Linked DNA regions of Homo sapiens: regions 2, 3 and 4 are each reported to be linked to region 1. The links are microRNA targets in miRTarBase. Many come from high-throughput screens and were not tested one by one. Region 1 holds a microRNA gene; each other region holds the end of a gene's coding sequence. Distances are from middle to middle.

The links. Region 1 holds the annotated microRNA hsa-miR-4458 (AGAGGUAGGUGUGGAAGAA, at 2,561-2,579, shown strand). A microRNA usually pairs through its seed, bases 2 to 8, with sites in the 3' UTR of a target mRNA and lowers its output. Matches are read on the target gene's strand: a 7mer-m8 pairs with bases 2 to 8, a 7mer-A1 pairs with bases 2 to 7 and ends in A, and an 8mer does both.
Region 2: the mRNA of GRPEL2 is a reported target of hsa-miR-4458. Seed matches in the 3' UTR shown: 7mer-m8 at 1,629-1,635.
Region 3: the mRNA of RDX is a reported target of hsa-miR-4458. Seed matches in the 3' UTR shown: 8mer at 1,388-1,395.
Region 4: miRTarBase lists FAM43A as a target of hsa-miR-4458. Seed matches in the 3' UTR shown: 7mer-m8 at 3,157-3,163 and 7mer-A1 at 2,793-2,799.

What each region holds. Positions count from the first base shown.
Region 1 is chr5:8,458,373-8,462,439 of GRCh38, forward strand. MIR4458 (microRNA 4458) reads left to right here and starts at 2,553; the gene lies at 2,553-2,627. MIR4458HG (MIR4458 host gene) reads left to right here. Exons shown (of 2, transcript NR_039989.1): 2 at 1,561-4,067.
Region 2 is chr5:149,350,848-149,354,914 of GRCh38, forward strand. It overlaps GRPEL2 (GrpE like 2, mitochondrial), which reads left to right. Exons shown (of 4, transcript NM_152407.4): 4 at 71-3,736. The coding sequence ends at 435. All of the region lies in intron 1 of GRPEL2-AS1 (GRPEL2 antisense RNA 1), which reads right to left. Among named protein-coding and RNA genes, the nearest start is that of GRPEL2-AS1, 4.8 kb to the right of the region's middle.
Region 3 is chr11:110,228,216-110,232,282 of GRCh38, reverse strand. RDX (radixin) reads left to right here. Exons shown (of 14, transcript NM_002906.4): 14 at 250-2,842. The coding sequence ends at 414. Among named protein-coding and RNA genes, the nearest start is that of RDX, 66 kb to the left of the region's middle.
Region 4 is chr3:194,687,353-194,691,419 of GRCh38, reverse strand. FAM43A (family with sequence similarity 43 member A) reads right to left here. Exons shown (of 1, transcript NM_153690.5): 1 at 2,383-4,067. The coding sequence ends at 3,322. Among named protein-coding and RNA genes, the nearest start is that of FAM43A, 3.5 kb to the right of the region's middle. RefSeq lists enhancers at 1,721-1,840, 3,687-4,067 and a silencer at 3,388-3,687.

The DNA of each region.
Region 1 (4,067 bases):
GTTACTCATTTTAACAGCTACTACGTGTTGAATGTCCTCTTGTTTGCCAGGTGCAGTTCTCATCCCTAGGGGTGGAGAGTTGAAGAAGATATATTCAGTTATTTTCTTTTTTAATGCTTGAGCTAACAATGATTTTATCCTTTGCTTTCTTAAAGGTTTAATTTGCTCTTAGGTGGACAGAAAAGCATAAACTGAATTTTAACTACAAGTTGGTCACAGTTGAAAAGCCTCATGTGTGGTTTGAGTTTTAGCTTAGATCTCTCCTTACATGTCTTTCCTGACAGCTCCTCAGATTTAGACAGTGTGAGGATCAAAACTGTATGAAGGTGCTTTACTCTTGATAATCTGTGAACGTCAACTAGGAAAATTTTGAGTGTATTAGAAATGTTTTTCGAACTCTTTGAGAGTCTAGGCAATTTCACTTGGGTTCTGTGATTAATTTGCAAAGTATTAGGATGAAATCAAGAAACCTGCAGTTTTAATTGAATTGACTTTGGTTTTGTTTCTCAAAAAGTGGGACAACAAAAATACCTACTTAAGACTACTGTTTCAGGCACTGTCTAATTGCATTCATCAGATCTTATTATATTCATTCCATGAGGAATCGAAGACCTATTCAGTCAAGCAGCAGCCCAAGGTTACACGTCTAATAAAGGGCACATTCCCAGATCAAGCCCATGTAGGCTGACTCTAGATTCTGATTTTGAACTGCTCTGTTTCTGAATTGGAGTTTAACTCCTCTGTTACCCCTAGATTAATGGTGAGTATTTTCTCTCACCCAAGTTAATTCCATTAACTCTAATCAGAACCCTAATTTAGCATATTTCCAGTACAGTAGTTGCGGATCCATCCTACTCTAGAGTTTTTGTGCTATGTGTTAACTGTCTTTTATAAATGAAGGGACGGCTTCCTCTGTAACATACGGGAGCATTGTATAATCTTTGAACAGGCAAAAGCATTCCAGAGAAAAGATAGATGAATTTCATATATTTTTATTAAAACAATTTTATTAAAACATAGATAAATACTGGATTATTTAAGCAAGTTGCAGTCTATGTAGGTTAACCACTAAGCTATGCTTCCTCTCTTTGCATGCGTGTGTGTGTATACGTGTGTTTTTCCTAAAGATACATCAAGGCTTAGTACTTTCACAATGAGTTAAGTCCTGCGCTGTGCCTTGAAAGATGAAGGGAGGGAGTTAGAGGCAAAGATGAATTAACAGGTTAACAGGATCCGGGTCCAAGTCCTTAGATGCCTATTAAAGAGTTCAGGCTTCACTCTGCGGGAAGTAGGAAGATTTTTGAAAGACTAAGTACTGGAAGGACATGATCAGGTTTGCAACTTAGAACTATCACTGTGGCTGCAGACCTAAGAGTAGACGAGAAGGGTGGGTAGAAAGGTTAGGAAACTACATTTTCCGAAGAAAAACATGGAAAGAACTGAAAGGGTGATCCTGGAGTCAGAGCCAGGTAGAGAGTTTAGGGATTTAAGGAGGATTTGGTAAGAGATTTATTGTGAATCCTACATCCTAAAATTTTAATGTTTTTTTTTCTTTTCTAGAGATGATAAATAGCCAAAGACGTCAATGGCACCCATGGACATAGTAAGCATAGTAGGAGCTGAAAAACTAGAAGCAATGACAATGTCAACTATTTTGAGCAAAAAGAAGCAGTGTCTTCGGAACATTTGATCATAAAACCAGAAATTAAAGGATGAGAAAAACATTTTTCTGAAGCTTATACTTTCACATTTCCTAGAGAGCATATTTGTGTGGATGGGGGTGGGTAAACACTCAACAAAAGTTTCTTTAAAAAGAAGAAACCATCCTGGTTTGATGTAATCAATGGTTGCCCACTGCTCCCTTCCTGTGCCTGTGACCCTTCCCAAACTGCCCTGTTGCTTGCAGGCTCGCCTGAGCTGAAAGGCAGCCCTCACATCCCGTCGGCACCTCCCTGGGGCCTTCTTTACACCCTGGAGAACTTCACAGGGAATCTGTGTCTGTAACACAAAGGCTTCCTGGTCCAGATGTAGATACTAAGGCTGACTGGTTATTTAAGTCCTGCGGACTTACTCTGCCAAAATTATTTAATCATGTAAAAATAATTTATAATTCTTATAAAGTATCCCCTTCATAATATAATGAATGTTGGTGCTATTACATTTAAGTGCACATGTACAGTATACAAGATTATTAATAATAATGTTTTCAAATAGTTATTGTCAAAGCTATTTTTCTTATGTTTATGAAAGTGCTTATAAAATTCATGTTTTATGAGGCTGGAGATGTATATTTTGTAATTTCATTCTGATATTTGTTAATATTCGCTTCCAATGCTGGTTTTGTTTGATGAGACTGACATTGCCTAATTTCAAGCTTTTTGAATGTGTATTCTTTCAGGGCAAGTATGAAATAACTAGTAAAAAATATACAAATATGCTTAACAATAAGTAGACTTTCTCACATTGATTACTTACAACAGCTTTATGTGGGGTGAATCAGATGCCTGTATTACAGAAGCATCTAATGCAAAGCAAAATAAAAACACTTGCATGAGCGCACAGAGGTAGGTGTGGAAGAAAGTGAAACACTATTTTAGGTTTTAGTTACACTCTGCTGTGGTGTGCTGCCTAGTATTTGCAGGTTAATGCAAATACTAGGGGTTATGAATTGTTTCTAAGTTTATTATTAAAAATAGCCTTGCTTCATTTCTTCCTAAAATGGAGACAAATATGTATAGTGTCTGTGTTACCAGTATGTGTAAGAGTAATATCTTAATGCGTGTAAAATGTTTATAGGAACCTGTATTTCAAAGAGCTATTTTTGCAAGTGACACTATCCTTTTAAGAAACTTTTTTATTCAAACTTTTTCCTCCATTTATAACTATTCTATTATTTCTTAATGTTCAGAACCCTTTTCATTATCTATAAGGTTAAATTTTAGGTAAGTAATGAGAAAATAATAATATGTGGAGAAGAAATGAGTGAGGAGTCGAGATGTGTGTCAATCAAGAATGAGTTTGTCAGCCCTTGTATTATGATTTTACTCGGGAGGGGATAATTATTGAAGGATGTAATGTAAGGGCAGTGATACTATATGGTATGTAAGACTGTTAAAATCACTGAGGTAAGCTATTACTTGAACTAAGCATAGAAATAGAGACAGATTTTTAATGCATTTAATTATCAAAATATCTAAATTAAAGATTTGATGTGGTTGTTCACTGGAAACAAATGGCAGACAAACAGAATATTTCTTGGAATCATAAATGACATCATCCTGTCTCCAACTTTCTGTGTAGCTTCTTTCTTTAGTTGGTCTTTGCTTAGATTTCCCTGTGTCAGAGACGACTTCCCTGGATATCAGTGACAGTTATTGATTGCTCATGCTATGAACTCCTCCCATTTCTCAGCCCTCTTGCAGTAGGTGGGGCCATGGTACTAGTTGTGGCTTATTGCTTAAAGACTTTAAGGCTCCATGTGTGACTTTCCAGCTCTGGTCCACTGCTACTGCGGCTCTGGCAGGACTAGGGAGGTGCCCCGTGTCTCAGATGGTGCAGCCTCCATCCAGCTGTGTCCCTGAATGACTAGAGCACAGCCACTGGTGACCTGTGGTGGACGTAGAATGTGGGTAAGAGATAAACTTATGCTACACCGCTGGGGTTCAGGGGCTAATTTGTTACCACAGCATAGTCAACCTTTTCTAGCACCCCATTCTGTCTAAATTTAGTAGTCCTACCCCACTCCATGCCTCCCCAACCCTTCCCCTGGCTTTAGTTTCTTTGTAGCACTGGTCCCCGCATGACCTGTCGTTGCTTTACTTTCTCGCATCACTTCTCCCTGCCTCCAGCACATGCACTAAAATTTAAACTCCATGCCTGGACAAAATCAATGTTTGTTAAATAAAGTCTGCCAGTTCTGTTTGCGATTTTTCAGAAACAAGGAAAGAAATCCTATATAAAGTTGATCTGTGCTTTGGCAATATTCATTTAGGGTAATTGCCCTTTTTTCAAATGGCTGTGCATTTTTTATGATGATGAATATAAAGTATTTAGCAGAAATATTTTTT
Region 2 (4,067 bases), 140 Mb from region 1:
TACCCAAACTCTATGCCCACGGGCAGAGTGATTTCCTCACAAACAATAAAAATAACTGGCTTCTCTGCAGGAATCCAGAGTTTCTGTAAGGACTTGGTGGAGGTGGCTGACATTTTGGAGAAGACTACAGAGTGCATTTCTGAAGAATCGGAGCCTGAGGACCAAAAGCTCACTCTGGAGAAGGTCTTCCGAGGGTTGTTGCTTTTAGAAGCAAAGCTGAAAAGTGTGTTTGCCAAGCATGGCCTGGAGAAACTGACACCCATTGGTGACAAATATGACCCCCATGAGCATGAACTCATCTGTCATGTGCCAGCTGGTGTTGGGGTGCAGCCTGGCACCGTGGCATTAGTAAGACAAGATGGCTACAAACTTCATGGCCGCACCATTAGGCTTGCCCGAGTGGAAGTGGCAGTGGAGTCTCAGAGAAGACTGTGAAGAGGCCATCAGGAACTGGATGTTCTCCCAGAGCGCAGTCACCTATGTTTCTTTTATTTATTAAACTAGGTTTGTATTGTACATGAGGTACTTCATGTGATATGTTTTGGATTTAGTCATATTGGCTTTATTTCTAAGATATTCTATTGATTTAATGTGACCTGTTTGGTCTCATCAGAAGTCTTACCATTGGGCATTTGAACAGTGTGACAGGTGTTCCAATGGCCTTTATCAAAACATGTTTAGGAAAATTGGTACTGTGATAAATTTGAATCCAAAATCCTTTTAACTATGGGTTTTCAACTACATGTTTCTTCCTAGCGGTCTCTATAACAGGAATTGTGTAGTATCTTGTATTTTGTGGAAAAAGGAGATGGTAGGGATTGGTTCAACATTTGGGTACTTAGAGGATAAAGCTTCGTGGTCGTATAAATTTAGATCATTTGGATTGATTTTTATACACATAGATTTTCAGGACTTTACCTTTTGTTTTGTTTTTTTCCTTTTAGCCATCTTTTGTTCTTGTAATCCCAACTAGATAGGCTTTATGCTCACATCATTGTCCCATACCCACCCCTTTCTCATCCCCATTTGCAGGGGCTAAAGGTCTAGATGAGACTTGGAAGGCAAGGAGCATCGAAATTTGAGATACCCAGGACCCTTTCAAGCAAGAATGGCCAAAAAGCCTTGTGCTGTCTTTGCTCTTCAAATTATTTTCAGCCTCCTTGTCATATAATCATTTCAGGCAAACTGAGGCAACACTAACAGCTAATGACCCAGATGGCTCTATTTGGGTAATTTACCTACAACTTATTCCACCAGCCTTTACTCCTCTGCCCTTTTGTCAATTTTACCTTATAATCCTTTATTAAATGATGGGAGGTGGTGATCAGGACAAAAGTGTTAGGTTCCCATGATTTCTCATTTCATTTATTAATAGTTAATGCTGAATTTTTTTTTAAGTTTCCTCTGGCTCTATTTATGTTACTTTTTGCGATAAGAACACTTAACATAAGTATTCTCTCCTCTTGGCAATTTTTTTTTTTTTTCCTGTGTTGCCCAGGCTGACCTCCAACTCCTGGGCCCAAGCAATCCTGCCTCAGCCTGCCAAGTAGCTAGGACTACAGGCGTTCACCACTGCGCCCGCAAAGTTTTTTTGTTGTTTTTTTTTTTAAGTTGGTACTCACAAATCACTACCTCTGTTATATTGACAAGCTCTATTTCCTATTCTTTGTATCTGTTAAGTCACATCTGTGTAAACATTGAGCTCACCTTTTATATATTAACCTCTAGAATTAATGGGCCTATGTGGTTTTTTTTCAGTCTTATAGCTGGTGTTCTGTAAAAGATTTGTCCAATAAACGACTTAATGAATGATACATCAGTCAGATTTTAGGAAGGCAGTCAATTATGGATATTTTAATGTTGGAAGAGGCCTTAATGATCAAATCTCACCCTTTCTGCTTCTGAAGTATGAAAATCTAGTCTTTTTAGGACTGGACACAAGGAAAATAATCTCTAAACTATTGACTAAATTCCAGTGAGAGTATGAATGAAGAACAACTAGATATTAATGTCAATCATTTAAGATTAATGGGCATGCAATTAAGTCTCCATTTAAGATTAATGGGCATGCAATGAAGTCTCCAGCAGACAATCAGATGTTGTTGGATGTCTAGATTATATAGGTTTAGGTTGAAGTTATAAAATAAAATAAAATTCATTTTCCACTGGAACTCTATGACATTCAGTGGAGTGGTGGAAAGTTAACCTCTTATACATTATAGATAATTCTAAGACAGCACACAAACTTATCAATAAAGCCATCTCCTTGTGGGCCTTACCATCTTCATCAGATTTAGACCCTTAAAAAACAAGTAAATATGCACTTTTAAAATGCAATCAAAAGACTGGTGGTTAAGCTTGTAAAACCAGAACATCTTTTGGCATTCCACTAAGTATATATTGTAAATTTAATGAACAATCAAGGTTCACAATAGGAAGTTGTCTTTTTTTGCCTTCCATTCTGTGAGATTTGACAGATGGTGACAATAAGAAAATGAGCTGATTGTAATTACTCTCTGTGTGTTTTTTTATTGCTAGCTATCATTACCAGTTAGAATTAACATTAATTACAATTAACAATAATTTTAGGTATGGAATGTTATGATTACCTAAAGAGATGTCTCTACCTAATGAGCTCAAGTGATCCTCCCACCTCAGCCTACCAAGTAGCCAGGACCACAGGCAAGTGCACCACCATGACTGGCTAGTTTTGTTTTTTGGTTTTTGGTTTTTGGTTTTTGGTTTTTTTTTTTTGGTTGGTTGGTTGTTTTTTACAGGCGGGGTCTCACTATATTGTCCAGGCTAGAAGAATTTTCTAATGGTCTATTACACCTCCCGTTTTGGCAAGTAAATTCAGAATAATTTTAGGTTCTTTTGTTATTCAGTAGTTTTGCAGACTTAAAAGTGTAAATTTAGAATTAGAAGATGAAGCTATAGTAGTAAGAATCTCAAGCTGAAGGGCTTTGGGGAGCCAAAGCAGCATATTAGAGCATAGGCTTGAACTTAAATCTCAGCTCAGTCACCTGCAGGACTTTAGGCACCAGTGATTTCACCCTTCTGAGCCTGTTTCTTTATTCGTAAAATGATTATAATAATTCTTTCACAGCGTTGTGAGGATTAAGTGAAATGTGTTAAATGCCTACTACAGTAGGTGCTCAGATATTTATTTTTATTTTTTTATTATGCACATTGTTTTTCCTGCCTTTTTATGGCTGTCTAAAGTCTAGGGAAAAGGGAAGACTGGTTAATGATGAGTAGAAAAAACTTGTAAGCTAATCATTCACTGACTTATTTTCCTTCCATTTTCTGGTTTTTAAAATTAGCCACACCACAGGAAACCCACATTTTTAGATGGAAAGAGCAAGAAAATTGTGTCAGTGCTCTTAGTTATTTTCATCTTAATGGTATAGTGAAAAGACATTGACTTGAGATGATACTAAGGAAGCTTTGGCTCACTCTCACTTGAAGAGGGGATCTTGGTGTTGTAGTACTTGGACTGTACAAATGTTTTACTGACTTTTCTTACTGCTGTAAAGGAATCAGGCAGTTGGGTATTGATATGTTATTTGGTGCTCTCATTCATGGCAAAGGATTTGATAAATAAAAGTTCTTTAAACACTAAAGCAAAATCAAATGAGCAAAACTAAGGATGAAATGTAATATTCATCAGAACAAGGATCACTGAGAAAAAATATTCAGAAACAACTTTAATAAAACCTGAATTGAAATAACTGCAGCTCTGGTGTTTAGAGTCTTTGTCTGCCTATTCGTATTGTATATGGAACATTATGGTCACTTCATGACTGCTGACCTGCCTTGTTGATGCTCTGGAGAGGTACCTTGAGATCTCATAGCAGCATAGCCAAGTGGATGCACTGTGGGCTTTCCCCACCCTGCCTCCGTGTTGAAGTCTTGTCTGTTTTATTCCTCCTTGACTTGCCTCTTTCTGATTGCTACATATTTCTTAGATCTGGATTCCTATTTCTGCCTTTTTTTTTTTTTTTTTTTTTTGAGATGGAGTTTTGCTCTTGTTGCCCAGGCTAGAGTGCAATGGCGCGATCTCAGCT
Region 3 (4,067 bases), not on the chromosome of region 1:
TATTAGATTAGAAAGTTAAGGAAATTTAGAATAATGTACAAAATACCATGGTTGATAAATGTGGAAAGGCCATGTGTATTCCTCCCTTACCACTGCCACCACTATTACTAAAACAAACTTATACCTAAAGAAAAAGGTTTCACAGTGGAAATGATTTGGTATATGTATTTTTGCATCTTAAAGCCATTTTCATAAATTTTTTTAAATCTAAGAAAAAAATAATAGTTGTACTTTTTATTTTTTAAATAGGCATTAAGTTCAGAATTAGCCCAAGCCAGAGATGAAACCAAGAAAACACAAAATGATGTTCTTCATGCTGAGAATGTTAAAGCAGGCCGTGATAAGTACAAGACTCTGCGACAGATTCGACAAGGCAATACAAAGCAGCGTATCGATGAGTTTGAAGCAATGTGAGAGCTGTTATTTTGCATATATGTTCTTCATAAGCTGAACCACCAACAGAGAAAAGCAGGCCTTTGCAGATATGATGGAATGCATCCCACCTTGCCAAAGCACTTACACCAGTTTGACTGTGCTAGCTAAAAGACAAATTTAAGGGGAGCTCTTCAACATTAAGGCAGTATGATATCATGCTTGGTTTTCTTTTTTCTTTTGGTCCAGGGAATGGAGAATGGTGTTCCATTGCCTCTTTTCACATTTTTTTTCTTTTTCTTTTTTTTTTCTGTTGAAGATTAACACTAATTATCACGTCTGACAAATGTGTATGTGTGGTTTCAGTTCTGTGTACATTTTAAAGGATAATGGTGAACATTTTAATGGGTTTCCCTTGCCCTTTCCATATTTAACCTATTTCCACATTCTCTCTCACTCACATTTTCTCAGTGTGCCCTTCTCTTATCTGCCATGTCCATAGCCATAATTCCACCATCATACAGATCAGGCAGTGTTTAAAATGATGGTAGGTAGCACAGTGGACAGTCTTTGATCATCATGTAGAATATGGCTATGAATCAGGAAAGAGATTAGAACATTTAATAATGTATGTACAGCTGGTGCTTAGTTTTTTTTTAATCTAAATTTAATTACCTTATTGGATATTTGATATTTGGTTATTTAATCACAGTCATCTTTAACAGCTTACACTGATTGGTGTTTTATCTCCTGTGATCCTTTGATGGCTTTTTTTGCCTACCATTTCACAGAGGTTTAGACAGCAGTAGTAGCTCCCTAGGAGAGTTTACTGATGAAACAGCCTCTGCAAGATTTTAAAAGTTTTGTTCTTTTATAGACTGATTTAGAAAAACAAATGATTAGTTAAAAAAAGAAAATATACATTTGTTGGTAACTAATGTTATTTTTTAAAACCTGGACCTTTTCTGGAAGGGCAGCATATAAAAACATCAGTCCCGAGGAGGGGACAACAATACTACCTCACTACTACATCTGTGATGACTGGTTGTTCAAACACAATGGAGTGTGTAAGGTATATGTTTTATAATTCATAACCATAGCCTCGATCATCAAGAAATACTTTCGAAATTTCATTTTCCTTCAGAATATCTTAAGAGTGCTAAATTTTTAACTGCCTTTTTGTCGAGTCAAACTGTGGGATTCTGATTTGTATTAAAATTGTAAGCTCCTCACTGGTATACTATCATCCTGGAGGGGTGTTGTATGGCTGAGCAAGAGAGAGAGAGAATGAGAGAGAGACTGTGTGTGTGTGTGTGTGTGTGTGTGTGTGTACTCTGTGTGTGTATGAGAGAGAGAAATGCTAACCTTGTAGCATGTGAAGAATGTCTGTACCTTGATACGATAGTTACATAATCAGTATATTTGGTTTCTAGATCACTGTGCTTATTTTGTTTCAATCTCTGACTAAAAATACTTAAATTTGGTTTGTTAATTCTTATTTTAGAAATTATAATTTTAGTTTATATTAATTTCGGTTATAGCTTACTGAAGAAATCTTTCCAGTTAGAAGGAGGTTCTAATATTCACATGTTCTAATACTTTGTTTATTGTAAAACAGCTAAATTTGGAGATACGTAAAGCCTTGTTTTCTCTGTGTGGTTCAGCTACTTTCCATTTGGTATTACACAGTCAAATTTACATTTATCTATTAAAATTGCCATTTTATTAAACATTTTCATGCACAGTAGATTCAAGTTGTGTCTGAAAATATCTCTTGTGCTTTTTTGATTTTGCTGACTTTAAAAGGATTAATCTGGGCAGACATTATGTAAAAGAAAGGTTGCGTTTAATATATTTTTTGAACTTTGTAGGACAAAACATAGCTGGTTAACCTTGAAGTGACTGTTGTACCATGGTTGTGCACATGCTTCAGAATCCTATGGAAGAGAATATTCCTACTTGCAGTACATCAAAGGAATGGATGGTGGACCCTACTATTCATGTTTTGAGACATAAATGTTCACTTTAAAGCAATTGCATAATAGATAAAAACCTGAACTTTCATTGGATTTTTGTTAATTTTCCTCATTTTGAATTATGTGCACTACCATAGCTACATCAGTTTGATACAGTATTGAAAAATTATCAGTTATATTTTGCTGTTTATGATCTATTTGTAGATTAGGATTAAAATGGATTTAATCCATTTTTAAGGCTGTGTGAATTTTTCTAAACAAGAACCATTTGCAATATGGATTTCTTAGAGATTAAACCAATTATAACTTATTAGCAGTCGCGAGCACATGTTCATATAGTCAATGTAAAAATACACTAATGAGTATTTGGTAAATCCCAGTAGGCTTTTACCATTAGCATAATTTTGTGTTGTACAATTAAGTTACAATTACATCTCTAATTTTGGATAATATTCATTGGTTAACAATAAAGTGACAAAAGCTCATGCCTTCAAGGTCCACTGTTGTTATTTAACATGGATTTTTTGTATGTTTCTTGAAAATTACAATCTTTATCACAGCCATGAATCACCACAACTTAAAAGTAAGAAGTAGATAGGAAATAATTTTAAATCCTCATAGATCTACTCTTTCCCCGATACCTCTTTGGTATGGAAGTAATAGTGATTAATTCTGTGGAAAAGTTAAATTATTAAATTAAATTGACTTTGTTGACAACAAAACGTAATTTAGGGTTTCCAGTCATTGCCTTTATTGTATAGTGGTTAGTTTCTTTTTCCTGAGGAAGATACAGTTTCTTGTCATTGATTGATCTCACTATTAACATTTCAACATTCTTTAAAGAACTGTATGCTAAGTATATTTATGTAAGTACATGTTCTTATTTTGAAGCTGTATTATAGAACAGTTACTATAAATCTAGAAATTGCCTTTTTCAAGTCTTCTTACTAATTTTTAACTTAAATAAGTGATAAATCTATAAAAATAGTAAAAGCTAGATTTTTTTGTTGATAGTAATATTTAACTGTCACTTTATTATTTCTGTTCTCAAGGACACATAGTGATTTTTTTACTCTGATCCTGTCAGAAAATGGAATTTTAAATAATATTTTGCTTTATGTCTAATTAGAGTTTTAAGAACTGGAATGGCCCCTTATAAAGTTATGTTAGATTTTATTGGAAGTCACTCTTATCATTAGAAGTGTTTCAATATTATTGTGTTTTTTTTTAAAATCCCACTGTATTCTGTCCCAGTATTGATCACCGTGTTGATTATTAATGTTTTTAGAAATGAAAATAATTTTTTAAATTCACAGGCATCCCATTTTACATATGCACAATAAAAACAATTAGTCTTAAAAGTTAAAGCTGGAAACTAAAGTCTAAGGGATTACTAACTTTAGCATTAACATACTGAACTAATGAGTAAACCAAAGCTTAGATACCATTAGTAAGAATAAGAGAAAACAGTTCAGTGTGGAGCTGTACTGTTAGGTTCCTCTCTTAAGTCTGTTCTAAATGAACAGAACTTTAGCATTTTCTTAGTTTGTACCACTTCCATTTTTTTAACCTATCAAATATTCTAATGTGGTCTGTCAGATGGAATGACAGTATTCTAGCTCATACAAAAGCTCTTTGGATTCTGCAAATGTGTTTGATAACTTTATGAAATATTCAGGCAGCCTGACCCCCCACAGTCTACGGTAGTAACTAGGAAAA
Region 4 (4,067 bases), not on the chromosome of region 1:
GAGTAAACCAGACTTCAGGTGTTTTCTGGAAGGTGTATTTTATCTAATGACTTAGCTTTGCTTTTGTCGCTCCATTCTTTTCCCTCTGAGCTCCAGGAGCAAAGTAGTTTTAGGGTCTTTCTTTTATTTTCATTCAAAACATCTCTTCTTACTCTAGTGATATCATCCCTGGAAGACTGAGAAGTCAGAAGAGGTGAATCACGTGTCACCTTCACATCTCTTCTAGAATTACATCAGTCAGAGCTCTGAGGTGCAGTGGGGATCGATGCCAAAAAGCAGAGGGGAGGAAGGAGAGATGGGGAGGGCACAGACGGAGGAGGAAGGGAGCTGGCTCTTTCCAGCCTGCTTATTTTCTTCTTCCTCCTCCTCAACCTTCAAGCCCCCCTTCCTATTTATAAATCACATGAGAGGAAATATCAGACTTTAAAGAGATGGCTGCTTTATATTTATTGATGGTGTTGGTTTCAACACTATTTGCCTGAACTTTTGGACCAACCACCACATGCCTGTCAGTCACAGATGAAAGCCAACATTGGCATTCTCACAGGACACTTAAACTAGATAAGAATGAAGACACACAGACCCTGCCCTGTCTCCCAAGTATTAGCCATATTATCTTCACTCTGTCTCATCTCTTCATCAGTTTCAAACAGCAGAGGAACTTGGCTATGCATGGGAATAATTTCAAATGTGAAATCTAGTCACGCAGGCTAGTGATGGCCCACACAGCCGTCTGCTTATCAGGTGAGCACACTGGTGTGGAAGGGCTGGGATGGGTGGCTGGGCTGAGACTGGACTTTCCTGACCTCTCTCTAGCTGGGGTTTTTAATGTCATTCAATGATGTGTATCTGAGGTATTCAGGGAGAGGGATCGGGACGCACAACCAAGCCAAAATATAATAGATTCAAAGGCCTGGACGTCCTAAGGCCCTTAAGACTGAATTTTTTTTAAATGTTTTCCACTCAGCTGGGTACAGTGGCTCACGCCTGTAATGCCAGCACTTTGGTAGGCTAAGGTGGGCAGATCACCTGAGGTCGGGAGTTTGAAACCAGCCTGACCAACATGGAGAAACCCCATCTCTACTAAAAATACAAAATTAGCCCGGCGTGGTGGCGCATGCCTGTAATCCCAGCTACTTGGGAGGCTGAGGCAGGAGAATCGCTTGAACCCGGGAGGTGGAGGTTGCGGTGAGCTGAGATTGCACCATTGCACTCCAGCCTGGGTGACAAGAGTGAAACTCCGTCTCAAAAAAAAAAAAAAAATATATATATATATACACACACACACACACACACACACACACACACATATTTTCCACTCGCCCCCTTTGCTTTTCTTTTTTAAAGATAGTTCTATGCCTGAACCATTCCTGTTAATTAGGAAGAAAATCTTTCACCCCTCTTTCCTCTATGGTTCCAGTGAATTCCAGACTCCTTAGGATTTCTGGGTCTAGCTGCTCAGAACATATTTATGATGAAAACAAAGCAAAGTGGCCTCAGGACACCAGGGAAGGCCAGGAGTGAGATCCATTTCTGCAACACAGGAAGAGAGGCCTCAAGGGGCAAAAGGAAAATATAATTTGCAGAAGGCACAGTTTTGGCAGCATCTTATTACAACTTCCAGCTGATCGGGTGTAGCCAAACTAGAGACATCTGTTTGGAGTTTACAACAGAAACAAACACACAGAAAGCATGAAAGCGCTGAAACATGCACACCCATACCGCGCTCTAACAGCTCCTCTCCCCCTCGACCTTCGCGCCATCCCCCAACTGGGTCACACTGGGTTGTAGAAGGGAAGGAAATGGGCTCTGCAGCCTGCCCAGCCACCCACCCACCTGCACCGTGACTCACTCACACCAGGATCGGAACTTGTCAACTTTTCTCTCCTTGGTTTTCCTCCCAGGAAAAACAGAGATGGCCCCACTCCTCAGAGAACTCCTCTTTGGGTTTCTAGTTCATCTTTAAAGCTCCCTGAGCTGTTTGTAAAGGAAAAGATAAGGTAGTCTCCTTACGCTTGATTATTAGCATGGCCCACAGAAGGAGGTAGTAAAATCTCAGCAGATCTGGAAGTCACTCCTCCATAAATAACCTCACAGGTCTGGGAGTGCGATATGGAACTCACCGTGGCCTCTCCAAAAGACCAGAAAAAGATCACACAACTTAATTACTGAAAAATACAGGATAATACAAGAAAAGGCTGGTCCCAGACACAGCACCCAGAGTTGTGGAGGTCCAGGAAGGCCCCAGATGGCGCATAAAGTGGACCTTCCTTCCCTAATTCTCTCCAAGCACAGGAAAGGCCAAAGACTGTCTTATGACACCATCCCAGGGTCAGACACAGCCTCTCCCACCCCAACGCAGCAGTTCCAGACGCTCACCTGTTCTGTTAAATTTTCCTCTTTATTCTCTCCCCACTGGCGTGCAAACAGAACCAGAACAGTGCTACTTTTAAAAAATAACAAAATGTTTTATACACATTTCTGTATATACAACTGAACAACATTTTACATGTTTCTTTTGCACAGCAAAAGATATAAACATTCAGCTCTGAGAACACAGTTATGTACAGAAAAAAGTCAAAAATACTTCACAACAGTGCAAAAATATTTTACACAGTATCATGGAGTGAGATCTTTTGAGCAAGAGGAAGGGTGTGTGTGTTTCTAAAGGAAAACTCCTTTTTAAGATATTGGATGTCTTTAACTGTAAACAAAACGCGACTCTCTTTCATCTCCCCCCACCCCCCAAACAGTTATTTGAAGAATTTGGCAACATTTCAGGGGTCTGAGTCTGAGGTAAACAGCCAGAATTCTTGCACCAAAAAGAACCAAGGGCTAAAGGGTTGCATTAAAGCCTCAAACACCTTGAGAGCAAATTTTTTTTTTTTTTTAATGAGATGTCAGTGACAGCGCAGGGCCGCTCCCAGGGGGTGGGAGGAGGAAGTGAACCCCTCCTCCTCAGGCCCCAGCTGCCCCACAAACAGGAAACTGGCCAGGCACCTACGGCCTGAGACTAGGAACTTCAGCCAACCTTCCCTCACCCGCATCCCAGAGGGGTGCCTCTCTCTCCCTCCTGGCGGGGTTTTCCCCTCTCAAATCTCCCCGCATCCCCACGCGCAACAGAGCCAAAAGTGCTGGGGCGGGAGCGGGGGCCGGGAGGTAGGGGAAAGCGGTCGGGGGAACGCTGGACCTGGGCTCCAAGTGTAGGTCTGGGCCCCAAATGCCCCATTTCCCCCTTCCTGGGGGCGGGCAAGGGACAGGGAGGTTGTCGGGACCACGGATGGGTAGCCACGGTGGAGCGCCGGCGACGCGCGGAGGAGCTCAGCCCGAGTGGGGCTCGTCTGCACTGGCGCCGTCGGCCTGGCGGGACGAGTCCCCGGCGGTGGCGGAGGTGGCGTCAGGGCCCCCGCCCTCGATGGAGCTCTCGCTGCCCGTGCTGTCGCCTGACAGCAGGCGCGTCACCCGCAAGTCGGCCTGCAGGGTGCGCACGTCGTTGCCGAAGCTGAGCTCGCCCAGGTCGCTAATAAGTTGCGACAGCTCAGCCTTCATGTCGGAGGCGCTGCCCAGCAGCAGAGGCGGCGGCCCGGCCCCCGGGCCCAGGGAGCCCCCGCCGCCTCCTAGCGCCTCCCCACGGCCATTCTCCAGAGTATCCAACAAGTCCCCGCACTCAAAGTGCATGGCGACCACTAGCGCACGCTGCGCCTCGGCCTCCTCCTCTGCTGGATCTCCCTCTGCCGCACGGTTCTCCTCCTCCTCCGGGCAGCCCTCGGGTTGCTCCTCTTCCTCTTCCTCCTGCAGCTCCTGCTCCAGCTGTTCGCCGAGCAGGTCCTCGGTGATGGAGCCAAGCTTGGGCGCGCTGCGGCTGCGCTCCACCGGCGGTTTATAGCAGCAGGGTCCGTGTAGGAGCAGCTTGCGCAGCGGCACTAGCGGGATGGTGTGTGCGCCCACCAGCTCCTGCTGCTGGTGACGCGCGTCGTCCCGCCGCTTGAGGCGTTTAAATTCCGCCAGCGCGTTGGCCGACGTCTGGTAGAGCAGCAGGGCCATGGCCTGCGCCTTTTCGGGCTTGG